2 linked regions of the Homo sapiens genome follow. The protein of the gene in region 1 purifies or fractionates together with the protein of each later gene. This does not show direct contact. Each region holds a gene or a part of one and is shown on either strand. Other genes may lie near its edges.

Evidence for each region. Proteins that work in one complex are often made in the same cells at the same time.
Region 2: the proteins of UBE3C (region 1) and XRN1 purify together in Homo sapiens (affinity purification with mass spectrometry; one large-scale study listed by BioGRID and IntAct). This does not show direct contact.

What each region holds. Positions count from the first base shown.
Region 1 is NC_000007.14:157,175,946-157,180,879, forward strand, and holds part of UBE3C (ubiquitin-protein ligase E3C), read left to right. Parts: intron 1-2,744; coding exon 2,745-2,902; intron 2,903-4,934. UniProt on the Homo sapiens protein: E3 ubiquitin-protein ligase that specifically catalyzes 'Lys-29'- and 'Lys-48'-linked polyubiquitin chains.
Region 2 is NC_000003.12:142,328,507-142,333,440, forward strand, and holds part of XRN1 (5'-3' exoribonuclease 1), read right to left. Parts: intron 4,584-4,934; coding exon 4,461-4,583; intron 4,029-4,460; coding exon 3,869-4,028; intron 1,132-3,868; coding exon of another isoform or gene 1,110-1,131; coding exon 928-1,109; intron 1-927. UniProt on the Homo sapiens protein: Major 5'-3' exoribonuclease involved in mRNA decay. Required for the 5'-3'-processing of the G4 tetraplex-containing DNA and RNA substrates. The kinetic of hydrolysis is faster for G4 RNA tetraplex than for G4 DNA tetraplex and monomeric RNA tetraplex.

The DNA of each region.
Region 1 (4,934 bases):
TCTTGCCTTTTGCTTACAACTCTTTAAAAATAAAGGAATCATGCTTCACTCAACAGCCGTACAAAAAACAGCCCTAGGGCTGGTTTGGCCTGTGGGTTGTAGTTTGCAAAACACCTTTAACGTAACTTTTGAATGTATTTGTATAAGCAAATAATTTTGATACATGATATATGTAAATATAATTATTCTTTTCCCAACTTTTATTTTTAAAAATTTCTAATACCAGAAACACCTGAAGCCCAGGAGTTCGAGGCTGCAGTGAGCTGTGATTGTGCTACTGAACTCCAGTTTGGGCAGCAGAGCAAGACCATGTTTCTTTTTTTATTATTTATTTATTTTTATTTTTGAGATAAGAGTCTTGCTCTGTCACCCAGGCTGGAATGCAGTGGCGTGATCTCGGCTCACTGCAACCACTGCCTCCTGGGTTCAAGCAGTTCTCCTGCTTCAGCCTCTCAAGTAGCTGGGACCACAGGCACGTGCCACCACGCCCAGCTAATTTTTGTATTTTTAGTAGAGATGGGGTTTTGCCATGTTGGCCAGGCTGGTCTCAAACTCCTGACCTCAGGTCATCCGCCTGCCTTGGCCTCCCAAAGTGCTGGGATTACAGGCGTGAGCCACCGTGCCCAGCCAAACCCATGTTTCTTTAACAACAAGAAAACACTCCTCCTCATCTTTCCTCTTTAATCTCAGTAAGGTCTCATGTATTTTTTAAAATACAGTGTGTGACAGATGACTTTTAATGGTCTGCTTATAGGTAGAGAGCACCCTGTAAGCAGCCCGTTTTTCTTGGCTTGGCCTCATTTGTATTTTGAGAGATCTTTGTTTTCTGTGAGGTCACAAAGCCTTAAGTGCTCTCTCTGCCCCAGGCCTGGGGCTGTTTTCTCTAAGGAGCACTGATTCTTTTTGATGAGAAATGGAATTTTAACAAAATGTAAATGTTAGAAATTGTACTTCAAGTGTATGTTAGTAAGTCGACAGTCTTATCTGCCACGTGCCAGAACATTGAATTTTTCTTTTTCTGTAAATGTGGCCTTCCAGAACCACCTGCAGCTCCTTTTATGACTAATCACATACATATTTTTTAATGCCGTTGAACATTTCTGAAGTCATGGAATCACTGGGTCACATAGTAGTTATATATTTCACTTTAGAAGAAACTACCAAACTTAGGACAGCAGCATAGGAGAGGCGCAGTTCCTCCATATCCTGAACCCTTGGTATTGACATTTGTCAAAACCCAGCCATTCTGATGGGTGTGTAGCTGTATTTTATTGTGATTGGAATTTGTATTTCCTGGATTACTAATGATGACGGGTGTTTCTCAGGAGCATACTGGTCACTCAGATGGCTCTTTTTCAAGAGTCTGTTCAAATCTTTTACTTCATTTTTTAAGGTGGGTTGTCTCTTGACAATATGGATATCCTTTTCCCGTCCAAGGCTGTCCCGATAAACCTGGAGCTACATCCTATGTTGTCTCTCACACGAGGCACCGTTCCAGCACTTCTCTCTGTTGCATTATCAGGTTTACCTCTCACATGGGATTATCAGCACACATGCTGCTGACTTTTCCAGGTTGACAAGAGGCTCTCCCACCGCCCGCCGCTGCCCTTTGCGTCCCAGCGGCTTGTTATGTGTAGCCCCGCTCCTCCTGCACTCGTACACCCCTCGAGAGACACCAGTGTGGTGCTGAGGGGAAAGTTGTGAAAAGGGCAAAGACAAAACAAGGTCTGGCTGGGTGTCCTGCCCAGCCTGCCCGCTGGGTCCTCACCCCCTGTCTCTCCTGGGCTTTGCGGCTGTTGAGACAGAAGGCAGCCTGCGGTAAGCGGATAAGCCGTGTAGACACACCCCACCCAGAACCCTGCACGTTATTCCCCTCCTGGCAGGGCAGAAGGCTTTTGTCACATAGAGAAGTTAGTTTCAGTGAGGCATTGAAACAGCCTCCTGGGTCCCTCATTAAAGGTGATGTGTGGTCAGATGGATTCTGTTTTTTTTTTTTTTTAAGAAAAAGGAAAAACAGCTGTAAAATACCTTGTGAAAGCAACAGGAGAAATCTAAAAATAAGTTCGGTGTTAGACAAAGTTTTTGATAGAAAAAAGGATTGGGGTGGGGGGAAAGAGGGAGGAGTGGACTAGAGACAGCCAAGAAGAAACTTTCGGGAGTGGCAGATGTGCTCTGTGTCTTGATTGGTGCGGCCTGCCCGACTGCTTGTGCTGCCCTCTCTAAACGGATAGTTAACCTGCAGTTCTTCTCATAGTAAGAAGGGAAGCCTCAGTCAAAATGAGAGTTGACTTAGGACCAGAAATATATCATTGTTCTATTTGGGGGATATTGCAGGCGTGGAAAGTCTCAAAAGCATCTTTAAGGAGATGAGATGCACTGTTAAAGAGATTCGTATCTGAGTTTAATTAAATGCAGCTTCTTGGTACAATTCATGGATTATAATACTTCTTACAGTGTTTTGTAATCTTTAATTTTTCGTGTTCATTTCTCCACTGTCCATTTTTCTTGTCTGTGAACTTAGTGCCAGCATACCGTTTGGCACATAACGAGAATTCTTTTAAAAACTGTCTGAATGACTGAATGTTAGTTGGATGATTTCCCTGTCTATCTGTAAGATGTCCCTATTTTCAGAGATAATCTTGTACTGGAATAGTTTCTTAACCATTGTCACTGAGAGTAACTTGGGGAAACTGGTGACATTTTGCCATCCTGTAAGTGTGTGAATACTTTTTTCATTTTTACAGGTTGCTGCAAAACTGTAATGATGACAGTTTGAATGTTGCACTTCCAATGAGAATGCTTGAAGTATTTTCGTCTGAGAATACTTACTTGCCTGTTTTACAAGATGCTAGCTATGTGGTGTCAGTGATTGAACAAATTTTGCACTACATGATTCACAATGGTAAGTAGTAGGCAGGATCAGAACTGTGGCTCAGCATCCTGATGGGGAGTGAGCAGAGGCCAGCCTGCTGCTGTGAGCCTGTGCCCTCAGTCTCAATGTCAGAGCGGTACTGGTGTCCCAGACGCCTTGTGCTCCATCCACAGGTGCCCACCAGAGTCCCAGATTCCAAAATCTGTCCTTGGCTCCACCCACTCTGAAAATTCAGAAACATGCTACTCTCTTTGCCTTTTTCTTTTGCTTGGAAGTGAACCAAAATTGACATATGCTTTCATCAGTTGTCCCGTCATCCAAGATTGGTGTCTGCAGTGCAGCTGCCGGTCCTTCACCTGACCAGGAAGGGCTCTTACCACCTCCTGGTCATTCTGAGTGAATGGGAAAGGTAATGCCACCAATGTATGAGTTGAACATCACTCCAAGAGCCTTATGAAAAAGTAAATTTTGTTAAATGATTTTTCTTCCAAGAGTGAGGTCCTTTCACATTAGTTCAGTAGAAGAGAATAGGATATTTAGTTTGAATTTTCTAACTCAGTGCTAAAGTTTTAATACATTGATAATGCTCCTAAAATGACTGCATCGTAGAAGCTATACTGAACTGCATCTGAAACCCTTGAGGACACATTAGTGACACTTTCTGGAGAAAAAGGATGAAATAAACATGATTTTTAAAAATTTTATGAAGTGAGCAGTATAAATCCTAACACAAAAGAACCTTTGGTCTCGACATCCTCATAGGTAGAAACCCAAGCACTTCAGGACTCCTGGGCTCGAGAAGTATTTGTCAGCATTAAAAATGTGCGTGAGACTAGTTGTGAAGGGAGGTCTGGAGAGCCGTGGCTGCAGACAGAATTATAAGCAGCTGTGCTTTCCTTCACCTGAAGTCATAGTCTGGGTTACATCTAACGGACTTGAAGTCTGGACCACTTGGTCCTCTTGGTCCTCTGTCAAAACTACAGAAATTAAACGCATACTCATTTCAGCCTTGCTGCTTGGCGTGTTACTATTTTTTAGACTCCTTAGTTTGTTGAAAACTTAGGGAAACAGTATTCCGAGTTAATTAAAAGTAAACTGAAAGTTGTGGAATTTGATCTTTTTAAAAACTAATAATTAAAAGTGGTTCATTGTGTTAGTTGACATATATACTGTTTTAAGACTAAGCGTTTGAGAATTTGTATTTGTTTTCTAAAATTGTAAGGAAGATATTTAAGAAATATGCATTATTTGAAATGTGTCCCAATATACGAAATGCTTAAAAATCTTACACAGAAACTGCCGCTTCTAGCATCTTCTGTGGTACAGCAGTTGTTTACTTTCTAACAGTCGATAAAATTTTAGCCTTTTAAATTATAGTATTACCATTATTTGTATTGTTATTGCACATTCTGTGCCATGAAGCTTTTTAACATTTGCAACAGAACCTTTGTCATGTTGTCAGTCTATTCAGTAAGTACATTGTTAGTTATGTTAGTCACTTTTTTAAAAAAGTCTCTGTGTATTTTTTAAAATTCTTGATGTATTTTTATCTTTTTAGTTTCATAGCAAAAGAGCTTTCAAGCTTTCATATGAGTTTCACTAGTTATCAGTATACACTAGGTTAGACTTGGGGTAGTTACAAAGTAGGTCTAATGATAAAGTACTGAGTATGCATTGTTTGGTGATCTTCACTCAAATACGAAGCTGTGTAGGACTGTTTCAAAAACTAGCCCATGCAGATGGATTGTTTTTAATGTGCTACCAAATACGCTTGTATATGATGAGATACTCAAAAATTGCACCTGAACCTTCTTATTCTATAAAAATGGAGTAAATGATTCTGAAAGAATATATGATTTGGATCATTCTTGATACCCAGAGTTATGTTCACTGCCTCCCACCCAGAGTTCCTATCAGAAGCGTAGGCTGGATATTTTAAGAGGTTCTGAAAGTTGTTTCAGTTTACGTATAAGCTGCCTTTAAACAGTTAACTTCTTCAGTTCCCAGATTGTGGTCTCCAAATACATCATCTCCTCTAAAAGGAGCTTAAGAGTTTCTGGAG
Region 2 (4,934 bases), on another chromosome or scaffold:
TGAATTTTAATCTTTTGAATTTTGTGAGACTTGTTTTGTGGCTTAACATTTGGTTTATCCTTGAGAATGTTCCATTTGTTGAGGAAAAGAATGTATATTCTACAGCTGTTGGATGAAATGTTCTACAGATGTCTATTAGGTGAAAGTTATTTTTAATAAACAATGGATTAATAAACATATAGGTTTACTTGTAATATTATATATATATATATATATATATATATATATATATATATATATATATATATATATATATATATATATGTTTCAGAGACAAGGTCTTGCTCTGTTGCCCAGGCTGGAGTGCAATGGCATAATCGTGGCTCACTGAAGTCCTGACCTCCTGGGCTTCCGTCCTCCTGCCTCAGCCTTGTGAGCAGCTGGGACTACAGGCTCACAACACACATGGCTAATTTTATTTTTATATTCTTTTGTAGAGATGAGGTCTTGCTATGTTGCCCAGGCTGGTCTTAAACTCCCAGCCTCAAGCTGTCCTCCCGCCTTGGCCTCCCAAAGTGCTGAGTTACAGGCATGACCCATTACAACTGGCCAATTTTTTTTGTTTTAATTTCAAACACAGTAAATATGGATATAAGTAAACAAAATCTCTTTGGGGTCCTCCAAAAAAAGTGTGAAGTTTCTGAGACCAAAAAGTTTGAAAATTGCTACTGTAGGCCAAGATCCCTGGCTCTATTAGTTTGAGGAATCTTGCCAGGATACCTGCTGCCCAGTTCCTCCCTGTCAGCTTCTCTTAGGGCTTTGGTTATGTATAAATATTAGAGCTAGGGTAAGAAGCATAAATCTATGCTGCTCATAAAGTTAAGAAAAATAGGCCCCATTTTATTTTTTCTAGCTAAACATTTTCAACCAATTTATTTAAGCTTAATGTTAAATAATTTATATAAATAGAACAGTAGTATACTATACCTGTGGCATCCTAAGAAAGGAGAAATCAGGTTGTGGCATTCCAACAAGGGAACAAATTCGAGAAAGTTCAGTTACTGGTGTGGATACAGGAGGGATCTGGCTGGGGGCAGGCCAACACATATTGTCCATAGACTGAACATTATGGTACTCATTAGCACTGTGAGGCTTGTTCATATAAGATGCTACCAAAAAAGAGAAAAGAGTCTATCTTTATTAATAAAATACTATCTCAAATTATGCACTTATTGTAGGGTTTTATAGAAGAGCAAGCAGGAAACTGCTAAAAAGTGAAGTGAATTGCTCAAGGCCACCCATTATTAAATAACAGAATCAGGATTTCAGGTGGCTCTAGTTCCAAATCCTGGACTCTAGCAGTACAACCTGCCATCCAAGTGACTGTCAGCTTACCTTCAGTGGTCCTCTGGCCACGCACCTTATAAATTTGGTCGAAAACCTTGAAAAATTCAGTTAGACGCTATAGAGCCACCAACTGCATTAAAAAGATGAGTCTTCCATGAAGCACATATAAACAACTATTTAGTACTTCCTAAAATTATTGTGACTTCAGTAAAGGTTTTTGGATGAGTATAATTGATTAATGATAAATTATTAAGATAAAGATTTTAAAATATAAGTACCTAACTGCCAAAAATTAAAACCTTGAGCAGCTAATGACTACATGGTACTGCTACAGGTAAAATTTGAACAAACAAATGGCTTTCTTGTTTTGCAGAAGTAAGAAGAGAAAAATAAAAGAATGAATAAACAAATGGCTTTCTTGAGCTGAAATATAATTCATCCTTAAGTTTTGAAGTTTTGGCTTCCACCTCAATTCTTGCAATTCCACCTTACATTCTGAGACACATGGATGAATATTTTTGTGGCTCTGAAATAATATTTCTTAAAAGTTTTTTTTGAAATTGTCTTCTAAGTGTTTTTATATGGAAGATGATTTTAAAATTCTGAGTGTTCACATTCTTTATGATTAACAAACTCACTAATAGAACAAAAGCATACCTCATTGAAGAATTAATCCAAACTTCTTACTAATATAGATTAAAAAAGCAGTTAAGTGGCTTGCTCAAAGTCACAGAGCCAGTTAGTTCTATAACAGGGGCTGGATTCTGAGCTAGTGACCCTAAGACTCTAAAGCCTATGAGTTTTTTTTTTTTTTTTTCCTATACTGAAATAAAGTAAAACTTACTTGTTTTTGACAATGGGACCATCTTTATCTAATTTTGTCTTAAAATTAATTTGGTTCTATTTCAGGACCATGTCTGTCACTATAATAAATAATCAGGTTCCTAATATTTTTTGGAATTTTTAATTAATTATCACTGGAATATAAATGGGGTTAGGTTCTGCTTTTATTCCAGGTTTTGTTTTTGTTTTGACAGAGTTTCGCTCTTGTTGCCCAGGCTCGAGTGTGATGGCGTGATCTTGGCTCACTGCAACCTCCACCTCCCGGGTTCAAGCGATTCTCCTGATTCAGCCTCTGAAGTAGCTGGGATTACAGCTACTTGGTGGCGCCTGCCACCACACCCGGCTAATTTTTTGTATTTTTAGTAGAAAGGGGGTTTCACCATGTTGGCCAGGCTGGTCTCAAACTCCTGACCTCAGGTGATCCACCCGCCTTGGCCTCCCAAAGTGCTGGCATTACAGATGTGGGCCAACGTGCCCAGCCAATTCCAGGTTTTGATCTTTAATACGCTTAGATCTGCTTATTCCAAAATGTTTTTGACTTCTCTGAGAAACTTCTGCCCACATCCACTTTTGTATCAGTCATTCTTCCTGGCTGCCTTTAGTAGATCATTATACAGATAAAATGCTAAAGTATAGAGGACATTCAGGGTAGGAACAAATATGGCGGATATTTACTGAAATCCAGTTATGTGCCAGATGTTATGCTATAGGCTTTACAGACTTAAGAGTATGACTCACTTTCCTATATCTAACTCTATTAATGATTTTTAATTGATTTTGTAGATTTTTCTATTTTTACAACAGTTAGGTTATTTTAACATAATATTAATATCAATTATTAGCACCTACAATGTGTTGGACATAGTGCTGTTTTATATTTATACATGTTATATAATTACCACAAGTAATCTGTAATGTATTATTCTTATTTTATAAATAAGAAACAAGATTTCAGAAAAGTTAAATAATGTATTTAAGTTACATGATAATTTTTAAATTACTGAGGACAAAAGCTAGAATGTGCAAACTTTTAAAGGTTTGGATGTCTACAGAATGATTATCTATAACACTACAATTAAGTAATCACAAGAAGACATTTAGTGACTGTAGATCTATTGGTTACATGGTTGTATTATTATTGTTCTTTTTGTTTTTTGAGACAGGGTCTATCTCTGTTGCCCAGGTTAGAGTGCAGTGGCGTGATCTTGGCTCACTGCAACCTCTGCCTCCAAGGCTCAAGCAATCCTACCACGTCAGCCTCCCCAGTAGCTGGGACTACAGGCACACGCCACCACACCTAGCTAACTTTTGTATTTTTTAGAGAGACAGAGTTTCCGCCATGTTGCCCAGGCTGGTCTTGAACTCCTGAGCTTAAGAGATCCGCCTGCCTCAGCTTCCCAAAGTTCTGAGATTACAGGCATGAGCCACACCTGGCCAGTTATATTATTATATAACTGAAACAAATATAAAAATTATAGTTTTAAGAATAAAAGTAGTTTTGGGCCAGGTGTGGTGGCATATACCTGTAATCCCAGCACTTTGGGAGGCTGAAGTGAGAGGATTGCTTGAGGTCAGAAGTTTGAGACCAGCCTGGCCAACACAGCAAGACACCATCTCTAAAATAAATAAATACATTAAAATAAAAGCAGTTTTATCTTTAAAAGTACATGATTAAAAAGAACCAAATGAATTGAATTTTTAAAATGATATTATTGGTAATAGTATTTAGTTTACTTACCTAATTTCTTATTTTGTTTAGGCTGAGAGGGTAATCCATATTCATCTCTTCTGTTAGAGGAAACAGGGATTTCATTAGCAATCTGTTTGATTTCATTCTTATGGTCCACAGTGTTAGAGCCATCAATTTTTAGAATTTCTTTAAGCATCCGTGTTCCCTTCTTTTTGAAAATGATTCACATGGAGATGGTGAGGGTGAAGAGAACAAAGTCAACATTACATCTGTAGAACTTATTGATCTTTCTTGGAAAGAATTCCATTGTTAACAATTAAGACATTAACTACATTCAGATAGAAACTGAAAAAAAAAAACCCAACACCCACATTTCTGATACAGAAACGATACTTATCCTCCTGCTTAACTTTCATCCCAGTTACCTAGTAGCAATGTTTGAAAAGCAGGGGAACTGTGGTCTAAAGAGAAAAAGTATGGCTAAATTGCCCAGGGCAGCCTGGTTTCCTCACAAGATGACAATAATGATGTAACATACCAGCCTCCATGATGGAAGTGTTTGAACACTTGCATGGGATATGTCTGCATGGTCAACAGTCGAGAAATTACCACAGTAAGAAAGTTCCTACAAAATACGAACCATGGCAAATGACTGTGGTGACAAATGCTCTTCACTTGGAGGCTCCCCATGATGAGATGACTGTACTTCATTTTCTTTGGAGATATTCAAAGATGCTAAAAAGTTCTCAATTCCAGAGTTAGGCTAAAAGAATAAATATTTTGGGCATGAAGATGAACGTATAATACAAGAACACACAAAAAGCTGAGTTTTATGTACAAAAATGGTCATTCGATTTTCACTCAATCATCTTCCCAGGTGTTAAAGTTTGGGAAGAGAATTGGAATAAATAGTTTTTTACCTTATCAATAGCATTTGGATAACCAGTCACAACCTTTTGGGTTTCTGAGACTTCTGGACTTTCATTTCTCTTCAATAGCTTAATATTATATTTGGCAGGCCCTTCTAAAGTCTATTAAAAAAGTAAGAATAAACTTTTTGTGCAAATATATTTATAGTTAATATGTAATAGTGTTCTAAATAAATTGTTGCAAA